Homo sapiens: one gene and its partner. The protein of the gene in region 1 interacts with the protein of each later gene in a pairwise test. Each region holds a gene or a part of one and is shown on either strand. Other genes may lie near its edges.

The links. Proteins that work in one complex are often made in the same cells at the same time.
Region 2: the proteins of SLC18A1 (region 1) and COL4A5 interact in binary tests that used the Homo sapiens proteins (3 or more experiments, as listed by UniProt).

Annotation. Positions count from the first base shown.
Region 1 is NC_000008.11:20,165,629-20,173,859, forward strand, and holds part of SLC18A1 (chromaffin granule amine transporter), read right to left. Parts: intron 7,501-8,231; coding exon 7,408-7,500; intron 5,867-7,407; coding exon 5,777-5,866; intron 5,519-5,776; coding exon 5,475-5,518; intron 1-5,474.
Region 2 is NC_000023.11:108,596,838-108,604,453, reverse strand, and holds part of COL4A5 (collagen alpha-5(IV) chain isoform 2 precursor), read right to left. Parts: intron 7,457-7,616; coding exon 7,386-7,456; intron 7,078-7,385; coding exon 6,886-7,077; intron 5,753-6,885; coding exon 5,584-5,752; intron 3,062-5,583; coding exon 2,969-3,061; intron 2,570-2,968; coding exon 2,465-2,569; intron 1,491-2,464; coding exon 1,393-1,490; intron 1-1,392. UniProt on the Homo sapiens protein: Type IV collagen is the major structural component of glomerular basement membranes (GBM), forming a 'chicken-wire' meshwork together with laminins, proteoglycans and entactin/nidogen.

The DNA.
Region 1 (8,231 bases):
AGCCTAAACATCCAGGACCCACTCTCGTCAGGACACACTCTCATCTAAACTTGGTCGCCCCACCCTCTTTCCAAGCATCCCAGCAGTGCCTCAGCCATCATTATTGCCTTTGCCTAAACTACACGTTCTGAGCTTCTCCATAGTTCCATGTTCTACCCACTCTTTAAAGTCAAGCTTAAATGGCTCCTTCTTTTCTAGAGAGCTCCCTGACTCAGTAGCTGGGGCTTCTCTCTCTTCCAGACATCCTGAACACTATGTCCTAATCCTTCATGGTGTTTACTACTTTCTATCTTGTAATAGATTGGATCATTTTGGTATGATAACCCTCTCTGCACACACACAATAGTGGATTGATAAATTTAGAGATCCTAAAACTAAAGAGATCATTCGCTTACCCAATTATTATTCGAAGTAAAGAAACTGATGTAAATCATTAAAATATACATTTAAAAGTACAATAAACCCTTTGACCCAACAGTCCCACTTCTAGGAATTGACTCTAAAGATTAATGACAACATTATAAACATGCAGTCATGCAAATTACAGCACTATTTATAACTATAAAATACTGAAAACTACCTAAACATAGGAGATGGAATAAAATATGGCGCACACACTATTGTGTACACATACAAAATTGTGTGTGGGTGTGTGTGTGTCTATATATATATATATATATATATATATATATATATATATATACACCACCAGGTGGAAAATAATAAGGAAAGATTCTGTGAACTAGTAGAGTAATTTTCAGGACATATTATTGAGAAAAAAAGGAGAACGCAAAAAAAAGAATACATAGTGTGCTGCCTTTCATATAATAGAAAAGGGAAAAATAAGAAAACACATAAGCGATTTATTTTGAGGAAAAAACACTAAGACACAGGAAAGACAAACCAGAAGGCATTAAAATTGGTTACCTATGAGTGGTAGGGGTGGGAGAGGGGGAGGGTTAGAAAGACTGGAGGGATTGACACTTTCTGAGTACACCTTTTGGAATAATTTTGACTTTTAGGTGGTAATGTCCTATATATTAAAAAAATAAATTATATTAGTGTTATGGGCTGAATGGAGTCCCCCCACCTTAGTCAAATTAGTATGTTGAAGTCCTAACCTAATATGACTGTGTTTGGAGACAGTATCTTCAGGGAGGTAATTAAGGTTAAATGAGGTCATAAGAGTGGGGGCTCTAATCTGAAAAACTGTTTTCCTTATAAAAAGAGGAAGGGACATCAGGGCTCTCTTCCTCTGTGCATGCACACTGAGTAAAGGCCATGTGAGGACGCACTGAGAAGGTGGCTGTCTGCAAGCCAGGAAGAGAGGCCTCACCAGAAACCAACCCTCAACAGTACCTTGACCATGGACGTTCAGCCTCCAGAGTCGTGAGAAAATAAATATGTGTTGTTTAAGCTACCCAATCTGTAGTATTTTGTTCTGGCATCTTGAACAGACTAAGATAATTAGCCAGAATGGAGAAAAAAAACTAAAACTAAATGCCAAAAAAAAAAAACCCCACAAATGGATGCAAATGAATTTCAAATGTATCATGCATTACATAATCACACTAAAGGTGGAAAAAAGAACTAATGGAAGTACGGTAATTTCTAGATACAGTATTTGGCTATATTCATTAAGTCTAAGGGAAAAAGAACTGAAAAGTCTTGAATATTTCTTGGTAGCTTTGTTTTTTATAATGGCATGGGTAAGTATTATAGAATTATACAAGTAAGTAAATTTTTTAATCTATTTGTAAAATAGGTGTTTCACCTATTTGTATAATAGGGGGAGACAAATTTCTTACTTTGAAAGAAGAATACATGTATGGAATGGGGCAAGCAGGGAAAAATCCCGTGGAGTTGGGCTGGAAGTGGAGGTCTCAGTACAAACTTGTGTGTGTGTATTAGCTCTGTCATCAAGATGGCAGGGAAACAAGGTGACCCCAATGGCAAAGAGCACATTGAGTCCCCATAGTTTTTTGTTTTTTTTGTTTTTTTTGTTTTTTTGAGACAGAGTCTTGCTCTGTAGCCCAGACTGGAGTGCAGTGGCATGATCTTGGCTCACTGCAAGCTCCTCCTCCTGGGTTCATGCCATTCTCCTGCCTCAGCCTCCTGAGTAGCTGGGACTACAGGCACCCACCGCCACGCCTGGCTCATTTTTTTGTATTTTTAGTAGAGACGGGATTTCACTGTGTTAGCCAGGATGGTCTCAATCTCCTGACCTCATGATCCGCCTGCCTCGGCCTCCCAAACTGCTGGGATTACAGGCGTGAACCACCGTGCCCGGCCCCATAGTTTGGTTTCTAAACACCATTCCCTACTAACAAGAACCTGGGCTCCTTGGGGAAATGAATTCAGGGCTGAGGCAGGGAAAGTACAAGATGAACGTAGGACATATTTTTGTATCGAAAAGTAAAACATTACTCAAAAAACAATGAAGGTATGTTAAAATGACACAGCAACAAGTTAATGGGCTTTGACTTGTCAAATCTAGGACAATTTGAGCATCAAAATAATTAAGGACGGGAGGCCAGGAGTTCAAGGCCAGCCTGGGCAACACAGGCAGACCCGGTCTCTATAAAAAGTTAAGCTGGGTGTGGTGGCATGCCTGTGTAGTCTCAGCTACTCAAGAAGCTGAGGCAAGAGGGTCACTTGAACCCAAGAGTTGGAGGCTACAGTGAGCCATGATCACACCTCTACACTCCAGCCTCAGTCACAGAAAGAGGCCCTGTCTCCAAAAAAAAATTAAACAAGTAAATAGAGTGATGAACTACAAAAATAGGACTCCATGATTCTACACTGATAATATCAGATAAATAAATGTTTTTTAAGTTTTTTGTGAACATAATCACATGTACATAAAATTATTATATACCTATTTGGTATAAATATTTATAAATATATACATATAAAGAGAGTAAGAAAGGAATGGCTATTGCTTTTTTGTTTTTTAGAGTATTTTTTTTGAGACAGAGTCTTACTTTGTCACCCAGGCTGGAGTGCAGTGGCTTACTGCAACCTCCGCCTCCTAGGTTCAAGGGATTCTATTGCCTCAGCCTCCTGAGTAGCTGGGATTACGGTGTGCACCACCATGCCCAGCTAATTTTTTTGTACTTTTAGCAGAGACAGGGTTTTGCCATGTTGGCCAGGCTGGTCTCAAACTCCTGGTCTCAAGTGATCCGCCTGCCTTGGAGGAATGGCTATTCCTTACAGCAAAGTGCCAACTGATGATTTGGATGAATTGGTGAACTAGAAAAACCAGTATTTTGTAAACATTATAGTAAAGATTGGGTCAGTCAAGAATCATCAATGGATAACAAATCTAGGCAGAAAGGAAATTTAAGGAGGAGTAGGAGATTTATATGACTTTACAACATCTCCCACATGTTATATATTAGTTACAAGGTGAAGAAGTAATTACTACACAAGAGACCCAGACAACACCTTGACCCAGTGATCAAAATGGACATCACCACTGAGAGGCGACGGGCATTAAATACCTCCAGACATGAAACTCAGAAGGCTACGGTATCATGAAGAAACATCAGACAAACCAAATTTAGGAATACCCTATAGATAATTGTCACAAATGTCAATGTCATGAAAGATAAAGGCTGAGAACTTTTCCAGATTAAAAGAGGCTAGAGAGGTGTGATGCATAAATGTCTTACACAGTCATGGACTGGGCTTTGCATTAGAGAAAAAAAGACTTCCATGGAAGACATTATCGGAATAATTGACACAATCAGAGTAGGCACGGCAAATTAGACTAAAGTATTATATCCATGTTAAATTTCCTGAATTTGATAGCTCCATTGACATTACATAAAAAAAAATCCTGTTCTTAGGGAAAATGCTCTAAAGTATCAAGGGGTAAGGGAACGATACAATCAATCTACTGTCAACTGGCTCAAAACATTAGTAATAATAATAATAATGTATATTTGTTAGAAAGAGAGAGAATGGGCTGGGTGCGGTGGCTCATGCCTACAATCCCAGCACTTTGGGAGGCTGAGGCGGATGGATCACTTGAGCTCAGGAGTTCGAGACCAGCCTGGCCAACATGGTGAAATCCTGTCTCTACTAAAAACATAAAAATTAGCTGGGCATGGTGGTGCGTGCTTGTAATCCCAGCTACTTGGGAGGCTGACACAGGAGAATCATTTGAACCTAGGAGGCAGAGGTTGCAGTGAGCCGAGATCGCCCCACTGTACTCCAGCCTGGGTGACAGAGCAAGACTCCGTCTCAAAAAAGTAGATATTTATGGGTGCCTCACTTTCCTGGAATCTCAAGCTGGATTTACTTGCTGAGTAATTCACCACTGCTGCACAGTTAATAATAAACAGTGGCTGAACCACCTGGATGAGTGTCCCTACGCCTGGGCCAGGGCTGGAGGGGTGCTGGGCCCAAGCATATGCCAGGCCTGGGAGCCTGTGCAGAGGGTATTTGGTGCTCCTTGCCCTGAGGAGTCCTGGATGGGTGGTGGTTATGACTTCCCTCTCCAGGACCCAGACATCCTACTCCTAAAGCCAGTCTGTAAAGAGCAGAGCATCTCAGGAGACTGCGGGAGGCTCCTAGTTGCTCTGGGGGAATTGGCACTCTAAAAGTATTGATTATGTCATAGTTTCAAATTCTTTCAGATGCTTCTCTGTTCACCCTCGATTTCATTATCTGTAGAGTGAGGCTAAAAATTGTACTTATTTCATGGAATGTGTAAGATGCAGCATAGATGGCGCACTAAGCTGAGCTCCTGGTGCGTGAAAAGCCCTGAAGAATGATGAGGTGTTAGTGTCATGACTTCCGGAATACCTTGACAAGCTGTGGAATGCAAAGTCAAGGCCTTTAGATCAAACATTTTTACACTTGATGCACTTTCTTACTTTTTTTCCTTCGTGGTGGGATATGGATTTTCCAGAGCTGTTTTTGGCTTAGAGTCAAACAAGTACCAACTCTGATATTTATTAACTGTGACAGAATGACAGTTAGGGATATTCACACAGGATGTCTTTTATTGCAGAAGATGTTGTCTAGGTGGCCCCCACAGCCTTCATCTCTGAGATGATGTTACAGCTCCAAATACTCAGTCCCCAATGTCATTATCTCCTAGCTATAATTACATGTGTGTGTGCACATATATATATATATATGGAGATCTCCAGATATACATGAATATATATATACATACCCCATATATGTGTCGAATATATAGATAGATAGATAGATAGATTCTCTATGGCTTCTTTGATTATGCACAAGGTTCTTCCACCATCTTTGTCCAACATCAAGCCAAATACGTCACTATCCCCCACACTACCTGAAACGTAACCCTATCCTGGAATCCAAACACAGTTCTCACTTTCGCTGACCCTATTCCTCTTCACTTTTCTTCTTATGGTTTGGCAGGCATGCCTGGGTTCCTGCATTCAGCCATCCTGTATAACTGTTAGAAATGGAGCTTTGTGTCTGCTTACCTCAGGAGAGACTTTGGAAGGCTGTAGGATGCAAAGCTGGAGTGCTAAGAAACAAAGAAGGTGAGACAGTTCAGCGTGTCTACTGATTAGCTGGGGGCTCCAATAACAGCTGTAGTGCTACCACCCTATTATGCATAAATTTAACTCCCTGAGTTTCTTCTTTCTTTTCTACAACGGGGCAGTCCTTGATCCATCAAAACATGTCCAAACCGCCCATTCTTAGTGAAGACTGACACTACAACATAATGCATTCCCAACCTGACCTGGGCTGTCACCTGCTGGAGGCTCTGATGGTGACTTACCTCCATCCAGTAGTGCCAGGAAGGCCAGGATGAGGAAGGGTGCAGACTTCCCAACAAACTCGTACATTACACTTCCAAAGGGAGCTCCCACTGGAGAGGCATAGGAGACACAGATTCCAGAGGTGAGGGTGAGTCCTTTGCAGTGAGAATTATCCATATTTACCCCGTGAGCATTTGCAGAAGGCCTGCTAGGGGCTAAGCTCCACCTGAGGCTCTGGGAATTCAGAGATGGAGACATGATCCCTGTCCCCATCAAGCCCACTTTCTAGTGGAGGAAGTGTGTGTGTGTGTGTGTGTGTGCGCGCGCGTGTGTGTATGTATGTGTGTGTGTGTGTAGGGAGGGACACAGATAATTAAAGCATGGTGAAAGTTTGACAGTAAAATGTTGCATGCAATGAAAGCACAGTCAATGTCTCAGGAATTTCAGGCAGCCACGAGGGCTTTGCCAAGTGTAGAGTATCTGGAGGGGAAGAAGCTTGTGTGAAGAACACAGAGGTGTCAGAAAAGAGTGTGTAGTTGGAGAAGAAAAAGAAGAAAGCGGGTGTTAGCAGAGTATGAATATTTGCGAGGAGAAAAGTAGAGCCTTGCATATGCAGGAACCTTGTATATGCAGATGAGTCATGTACTTGGCCTTGCGGCCTATGGAGAAACATCAGGTGAGAAACATCACCTGCTCTGGGCTCAGGAAGATTGTTCAGGCAGCATCGTGGTGGAAGGAGGGAGTACACAAGAGGGAGGATGCTGCCAGATTCTAACCCAGAAGTGACAAGGAGCCAGGAGTGGCTGTTGAGGATCTAACAAGCTTGTTCATTTGGGAGCTTATTCATTTGGGACATGATAAAGGATTTCAAGATGCACAGGGTTTAGCTTGGGCATTTGGGTTGATGGATACTAGCAAATAACAGGGATTCTGTTTCCTCTGCTTCCCATGGGGCTAGAGGGTGGGGCATAGGCCGGGGAAGAAATTTCAGGTGTTTTGTTTTCGATGAGCTTGTAAGCTCCTAGAGGGCAGGAACTATGCCTGGGGCTTCCCACCCTACAGTACTGGCACTGTGCTTGGCATGTAATAAGTGAAAGCATGTAGCTTGTCAATTAAGTTGTATGAGGGAGGAGCCTCAAAGAAAGGGTAGTTTTATCGTTTGGGGCTTGGGTTTCCAAGCCCAGAAAATCGGAGTCTGTATCCTGGCTGTGGCGTTTCCTAGCTGTGTGATGTTGGATGGTGTTTTCGCCATTCTTATTTTCATCTCTATAATGGGGAAAATCATTCCTCCTTTCATTCCTGGTGGTGAGGAATAAAAGAGATTATGCGTGTAACAGATTTAGCAGAGCATCTGGCAGCAGCCATGCTCTGGTGCTGTGTGCATGGGAACCGAGGCGAAGCAGTGGCCTCTAAATCGGGGAGGCTCACTTCCTCCAACAGGCTGGGCTTCCGGACCTTTCTCCGACGTTTATGTGTTTCCCAGCTTCTTAAGGAGAAGGAAATTTAACCTTTTCTCAGTGATATTTCTAAAGGAGTTGAAATAGGATGAGGCCAACAAGGGAAGGAAAATACTCGTCTTCTACACCTCGGGAACACCTGCTTCCTAGAGTCCCACCCTCCCGAACCCAGAGCTCCAGCTGGTGCCACTTACCCAGCAACCCCAAGGCCAGGCCCCCCAGAGCAGTTCCCATGGCTCGTCCTCTCTCATGGTCATCAGTGTAGACACTGGCCAGCATTCCAAGACCTGCGCAGAGAGTTACAGATGCAGCTGGCCCCCTGGGGGGCTTCTATCCGCCTCTCAGAGCCCTTGGTCCCACCCTGTTATCTCTTCAGTGACAATCTTAGCTAGAGTTTCAGTTTGAGGGGTTTTACAAAACTTAACCCGTAGTATTTTTCAAGTACTACCCTCCCTAGTCCCCCAAGCCCCCACATTGTCCACTCCTGTTCAGAATATTGTTGATAGTGCAAGCCCTCTGGAAGGATAACACAGAAAATCCATTGTCTGATTATACCATGTTTCATAACATTTTATCATTTCCTAGCACATTTCCCAAAATGAGGGGTTACAGAGCAGATCAGGGAAAGGAAAATCTAGGCACACAGAGACCATTCTATTTAACAGGGGTGCCCAGGGAAGAGCAGGAAAGCACTGCAGACCTGGAAGAAAGTGTGGGCTAGTGCTGTACGGCAGCTGGACCCTCTGGCCTTCATAGCTATGGGTAAAATGGCATAAAATGCCAACTTCATAAGATTGCATTAGATATTATATTCACCAGTACTTTGAAAACTGTGCTGGTGTTACCAGTAGTACTAACATGATTATTCCTATAAAGTACTAAGAGGGGGACAGAAAAAGGACCATAGAGTGGCACTAAATGAAAGCCTGCCCTTCTTCATAGCTTCACTGGAGGCTTGCTCTGACCTGAGCTAGCTGCATCTGAATATTAGCAGAGGAAGTTATGTCAGGCTCAGAGA
Region 2 (7,616 bases), on another chromosome or scaffold:
CCTACTCCTCAGAAGAAAAGATTCCTTTCAAAATTTTACTGCTCATTTACAATGCACCTAGTCACCCAAGAGCTCTGATGGTGATGTACAAAGAGATGAATGTTCTTTTCATGGCTGCTAACACAATACCCATTCTGCAGCCCATGGATCAAAGAGTGCTTTTAATTTTCAAGTCTTATTATTTAAGAAACACATTGTGTAATGTATAGCTGTCATAAATAGTGATTCTTCTTATGGATCTGGCAAAACAAATTGGAAACCTTCTGAAAAGGGTTTCATTCTAGATGTCATGAAGAAAATTCAGGATTCATTAGAAGAGGTCAAAACATCAATATTAACAGGAGTTTGGAAGAAGTTAATTCTAACTCTCACAGATGACTTTGAGGGTTTCAAGACTTCAATGGAGTAAGTAACTGCAAATATGGTGGAAGTAGCAAGAGAACAACAATTATAAGTAGAGAATGAAGATGTGAATGAATTGCTGCAATCTTATAATAAAAGTAGAACAGATGAGCAGTTGCTTCTTATGAGCAAAAGTGATTTCTAGAGATGGAATCTACCCTGGTGAAGATGCTGGGAACAGTGTTGAAATGACACTAAAGGACTTAGAATATTATATAAACTTAGTTGATAAAGCAGCAGCAGGGTCTGAGAAGACTCACTCCAATTTTGAAAGAGGTTCTACTGTGGGTAAAATACCATCAAACAGCACCACATGCTGCAGAGAAATCTTTTCTGAAAGGAAGAGTCAATTGATGTGGCAAACTTCATTGTTGTCTTATTTAAAAAAATGGCCACAGCCACCCAACCTTCAGCAACCATCACCCTGATCAGTGGGCAGCCATCAATATTGAGTCAAAACCCTCCCCCAGCATAAAGATTATAACTTGCTGCAAGCTTAGATGATTGCTAAAATTTTTTAGCAATAAAGTATTTTTAATTAAGGTATGCATATGGTTTTTTTTAGACCTAATGCTATCGCACACTTTAAAGACTACAGTATAGTGTAAACATAACCTTTATATGTAGTGGGAAACAAAAAAAGTTGTGTGATTCACTTTATTTTGATATTCACTTTATTGTGGTGGTCTGGAACTAAACCTGCAATATCTCCAAGGTATGCCTGTATTCTCTAATCAAAGAACTGGGCATTCAAAAGTAGGTACAGAAATTAGGTTTTTTTTTTTTTTTTTTTTGCTCCAAATGTGACCTTGGACTATTAAAGATGATTTGGGGTTAAATATTTTTTTAATGGAAATATAATAAGTTATCTGTATATTTATAGTAAAGACTTGGGGCTTGGGATGATATCTGAGTCAAAATAGAGAGCTAGAAATAAGGAAGGTGGGAAAGATAAGAAAATGAGAAGGAATAAAGAAAAATGTCCCAGACCTTTGGTCCTGGAAAGCCGGGTGGCCCAGGAGGGCCTTCTAGACCAATTCTTCCAGGTGTCCCAGGTGCTCCTGGAGGTCCTGGAATTCCAGGAAAGCCTGTAAAATGATAAGTCATTTTTTAACCACCAAAGGAAAGGCACTTTAAGAAAGATATTCAAATTCCCAAACCCACATTCTACTCATGCTTAGTGACAACAGTAAGATGTCAAAAGCACAATGACATTCTACTACTTAGGATTAAGCCTTACAATCCTCTCAATCATCTTACATTCCTTTTATTTTCACATAGAGCTAATGTATGTGGAACATATGCTTTTCTGAAGAAAATGAGGGCTATTATATAATAAGATAGAACTAAATTGTAAGGAATGAATCCCACACAAAAATGCCCAAGAACTTTTCTTCTGCTTATATCTGGATGTAGTATGACAAAGGGCCTACCATATAATTTTGGAAATGATCTAAAAATAACTGCAGATATTATAGATACATACACACATAAAATCAAACCTGATACTTTTGAAAGCATTTTGTATAAATGAGTAAAGATATATTTAAGAACTGTCCTCAGACCACTGTGTGCTCTTGCCATTTGTGAGAATAAATTCTGTGAGGAATAAAGCAGAACTGAAGCATAAGCCCTAAAAATTTCAATAAATCAAGAAAATATTATTTAGCATAAAACATTACTTGGCTACACATCTGCAATAAGTCTGTTTTCTGTTTAAAAAATCCTTTAACTCAATAAACATCAAGTGCACACTATGTGTTAGGAACTGTTCTAAACCCTGAAAATACTATGGTGAACACAAAACACAATAATTCCTGTGATTTTTAAGCTTATATATCACTTTTGCATATCTAAAATGTAGATATTTTCTTGTCTGGACTGTTTTAGATAAAGATAATGAACTTACAGTGAAAATACACTGTGATTTTTTATTTACATTCTTTATAGCACAGAGAAAAAAGGTGCAATTAATATATTTTATTTGTTGAATGAATTTTATGAGAGAATAACATCATGCTAAACTTCTAACCTACTCTGCCTGCTACCCATTCCAACATACCTTTGGGACCAGGTGGTCCAGGAAGCCCAATTCCAGGGATACCTGGTTCTCCTTTGCTACCAGGTATCCCTGGCAAGCCTGGTTGCCCTGGAAGTCCAGGGTCACCTATGGAGAAACAGCAGTTATTGAAAGGAAAACGTTCAAAGAAAGAAGCCATCAGGGCCAGGTGCAGTGGCTCACTCTTGTAATCCCAGCACTTTGGGAGGCTGAGGCAATGGGTCACCTGAGGTCAGGAGTTCGAGACCAGCCTGGCCAACGTGGAGAAACTCCGTCTCTACTAAAAATACAAAAATTAACTGGGCGTGGTGGTGGGCGCCTGTAATCCCAGCTACTTGGGAGGCTGAGGCAGGGAGAACTGCTTGAACCCAGAAGTAGGAGGTTGCTGCAGCAAGCCAACATCACGCCACTGTACTCCAGCATGGGTGACAGAGCGAAACTCTGTCAAAAAAAAAAAAAAAAAAGCCATCGGTGTTGAAGTTACTTTGAAATAAATTCCTCACATACCTGGAAGACCTACATCACCATCTCTGCCTGGGTTACCAGGCAAGCCAGGCTTCCCCGGCTGGGTTATAGTCTGACCTGGATCCCCTTTAGGACCTGAAAGCAAGAGTAAATCAATGGTAAATGAGAAGTATTTACTCAACTAAAGGTCTCTTTTTAATTAAAAACAAAAAAGAAAATTATCAGCAATCTTTTGAAAATGTAAACTAACAAAAATTCACAAGAAAAACAATCTTCCACTATATATTCAAGAAATATATAAAACAGAAGGATAGAATTTCAAAAAGAAAAAGGATATGACAGCCTTAAGGACTTCCATGATTCAAGATGTATAATGGTTAATTTTAGGTTTCAACATGACTAGATTAAGAGATACTGAGATCGCTGGTAAAGCATTATTTCTAGATATGTCTGTGAGGCTGTTTCCGAAAGAAACTGACATTTGAATCAGTGAAACGAATAAGGATGATCCACCCTCACCCAATGTGTGTGGGTACCATCCAATCAGCTGAGGGACCGGATACAACAAAAAGGCAGAAAAAAAGGTGAATTCTCTGCTCTCTCTCTTTTGAAACTGGTACACCCATCCTCTCCTACCCTTGGACATCACAACTCCAGGTTCTCTGGCTTTCAGACTCTGGGACTTGTACTAAGCAGCCACTCAGGTTCTCAGGCATTCAGACTAGGACTGAGCCAAGCTACTGGCTTCCCTAGTTCTTCAACTTACAGGTGGCCTACTGTGGGATTTCTCAGCCTCCATAATCATGTAAGTCAATTCCCATAATAAATCACCTCTCATCTATCTATCTATCTATCTATCTATCTATCTATCTATCTATCTATCTAATCTACCCATCTGTCCATCCTTTTTATTGGTTCTGTTTCTCTGGAAACCCCTAAAACAGGGTGTTACCTATATAAGTATTTTTAAAATGTAGGCCAAAAGAGCATTAAAAATCAAACTGTAGTAAACAAGGAAAATATTTTTTTGGCTAATAGGTACATTTAGGTTTTACATGTGCAAAGTTCAAGTATATCTACTTCTTATTAATGGAAACATGAACTTGAAATTGGCTCAAGAAAAAAAAGATTTCCTAAACATGACACAAAAAGCACTAACCATGAGAGAAAAGATTGATAATTTTGATGATGTGAAAGTTGTTTTCTGCTCATTGAAGACACCAAACAAAGAGTAAAAATGGCAAGCCACAGTAGGTAAAGATTTCTTTTCGCAAAATACATAGGTAACTAAGAACTAATGCACAGAATATATAAAGAACTCCTCTAAATCAATAAAAAAAGAAATAATCCAATATAAAATTGGTCAAAGTACTTGATTAGGCATTTCACAAAAGCAAATTCAAATGACCAATAAACACATGAAAAGGTGCTAAACTTTAATCAGAGAAATGCAAAATATCACACTCAACAGATTGGCAAAAGTGTAAAAGTCCGACAATACAAATTGTTTCCAAGGATGTAAATCAACATAAAATATTCAACACTGCTTGTGGTAGTAAAAATTGGTACAATTGGTCTGGATAGAGTTTGTAATTATCCAGTCAAGTGGAAGATGCACTTATCCTATGCTTTGAAAATGCTAATCTTAAATACATACCCTAGCCCAGGTATTGGTAAGCCTTTTGTGTAAAGGACCAGAGTAAATACTTTAGGCTTTGTGGACCATCCAGTCTCTGTAGCAACTACTCAACTCTTCAGTTGTAGTGCAAAAACAACCACAGACAAAAGTGAATGGTTGTGGAAGTGTTCACATAAAACTTTTATTTATAACAGGTGGTAGGCTGGATGTGGTCCATGGACTGTAGTTCTGTAGTGTGCCAACTCTTGCCCTAGAGAAGTGTGAGCACATGAACACAAGGAGATATAGGGATCTATCTATCTACCTAGCTATCTATCTATATGACTGTAAACAGAAGCATTATTCATAATAGACCTGAACTGTAAATAACCCAATTAACCATTAACCATAGAATGGATCAATCAACTGTAACACACACACACACACACACATAAACATACATACAATGAAATACTATATAGCAATAAAAATGAATACACTATAGCCACACGAAAAGTTAATATAAAAAACACTTACCCTATGATTCCTTTAACATGAAGTTCAAAAAGAAACAAAATTAAAATACTCTGTTTAAAAATGCATACAGAGGTCATAAAACAGAGGGGTAATGGAAGAAAACTATGTAAAAGTCAAGACAGCAGACAGGAGGAAGGGGATTGTGATTAGGAAATGACAGGGAGAAAAGGTTAGGGGTTTCTAGGATGCTGGTAACATTCTATTTTTTGATGTGTGTGGTAGCTACCTGTGTGCTTCTGTTATAACTATTTATTAAACTTTGCATTATGTATCATGTACTTAAAAAGAGCAAAATTAACAGTAACAATGAAACAGTTAGAAAAGATTTAAAAAGAAACCCCCTTATAAAAACCATTGTGATCCCTTGCTAAGATGCTCTGAAGAGTTCAAATATAAACGGCCAGGGAAACACACCTCTCGGGAAAGGAAGCCATGAGTAGCCAAAACATAATAAATTTCTGTTTTTAAGCACCAAGTTTAAAACAAAACACAGTAAACTTACCTGGTATTCCTGGCTGGCCTGGATTTCCTGCCACACCTTGTATGCCTTTTTCACCTACTGGGCCTGGAGGGCCGAAACCAGGGGGACCCATAGGCCCTATATTCCCTGGGAGGCCTGGTAAACCTGGGTTCCCAGGGGGACCTCTTTCACCCTTAAAAGTAATTCCACCCTAAAAAGGGAAAAGTTTAATACAGAAACATATAGATACAACAACTATCTGTAGGTTGGTACTGAATACAACTGGGGAAAGGATATAGCCATAAATAGTTCTTCTTAAAAGCTATATAAGTGAGTGGTATTATGAGATGGTATGTGTGATCATTCCACTTACTCATTCCTCCAACAAATATTTTTGGGCTCCTACTATGTGTCAAGTGCTGGTGATACAACAGAAAACAAAAATACACAAAAATCTCTGACTTTATGCAGCTTACATTTTAGTGTAAGTCAGAAAGGTTATAGTCTAGATAACATTATAAAATATCACTTCCTACCTAAATATCCTGGGCTGTGTGTTATGTACAAAATAAGATTGTTCATTTATGTTAAATCTTTCAGTTCTGTGGCACATTGAACATGGCTATCTACTTGTACTATTCTCTAAGCTTACTATATATATAGAAACAAGTTAAACTGCTGGTTATGAGGTTTATTTATTTATTTATTTATTTAATTTATTGTGATGGAGTTTTGCTCTTGTTGCCCAGGGTGGAGTGCAGTGGTGCAATCTCGGCTCACTGCAACCTCCGCCTCCCGGGTTCAAGTGATTCTCCTGCCTCAGCCTCCCGAGTAGCTGGGATTACAGGCGCCCACCACCATGCCCGGCTAATTTTTGTGTTTTTAGTAGAGACAGGGTTTCACCATGTTGGCCAGGCTGGTCTCGAACTCCTGACCTCAGGTGATCCGCCCACCTCAGCCTCGCAAAGTGCTGGGATTACAGGTGTGAGCCACCATGCCCAGTCATGAGGTTTAAGTAAACCCAAGGAAAGATATGTGGGGGTTAAGAGATGGGGAACCTTATACTGTCTCATAAACATCTTAACCTCCTGCCCACCTATTCATAGAAAATAGTATTCAATATTAATGGGTTAAGAAAAATAAGTTTACAAAACAAGTGAAAGAAAAGAGTAGTGCAGAAACCCTACGTAGTCAGTAACAATGTGCCATTACTGTATGGTCACATTGTTTTAAGCATTGATTGGGTGTTTATCTCAGCATCAGTCCCATCCTTTGAATTAACTTAGAAAACATTTCTAAGTGAAAATTTAACATCACAAAACCAAAAATATCAAACCAACTCACAGGCTCTCCTTTCGGGCCAGGAAGCCCTGGCAATCCATCCTGTCCAGGAGTGCCAGGTAAACCAGGAAGCCCTGGAGCTCCAGGGGAACCCAACTCTCCTTTGTCACCCTTCATTCCTGGAAAAGTGAGGATATCACCAGGTTCACCTTTAGATCCAGGAAAGCCTGGAGCACCTGGAGCTCCTGGAATGCCCTGAAATGAGTAAGGAAAAAAAGAAAAAAGAGTGGAAAAAGAAGAAAGAGAAAAAGAAAATCAGTTTCTTTTTTTCTAACATTTTCTTCTCTCCAGTTTACCCCTTCAACCCATCCAATAACATTTAATGTACAAAGGGCTGAATCAAGTGAGGCATGTGAGTCAGGAAGAGTCAAGGAATCAAACAAAGTACAACTTAATGGAAAAATTAAATTGTATATGTGTGTATATATATGAATAATTGAAAATCAATGTGTAAAATGCCTTCCTTCTACTTCTTTTTGTTTTATAATATACTCAAAACTTACTGGTAATCCTTTGGGACCAGTTGCACCAGCTTGTCCTTTTTCCCCTTTCTGTCCAGGGAAACCAAGAGATCCTAACACACACACACACAAACAAACACACACACACACAATAACGTAAGCTTTGAGCTTGAACTCCTGACAAAGCTCATACAGAAATCATCAAGTCAGAAAGTCAAGTTTTTAAAATAAGAACCCCATTCAATCCCATTTAAGTCACATTTGTATTTTCCT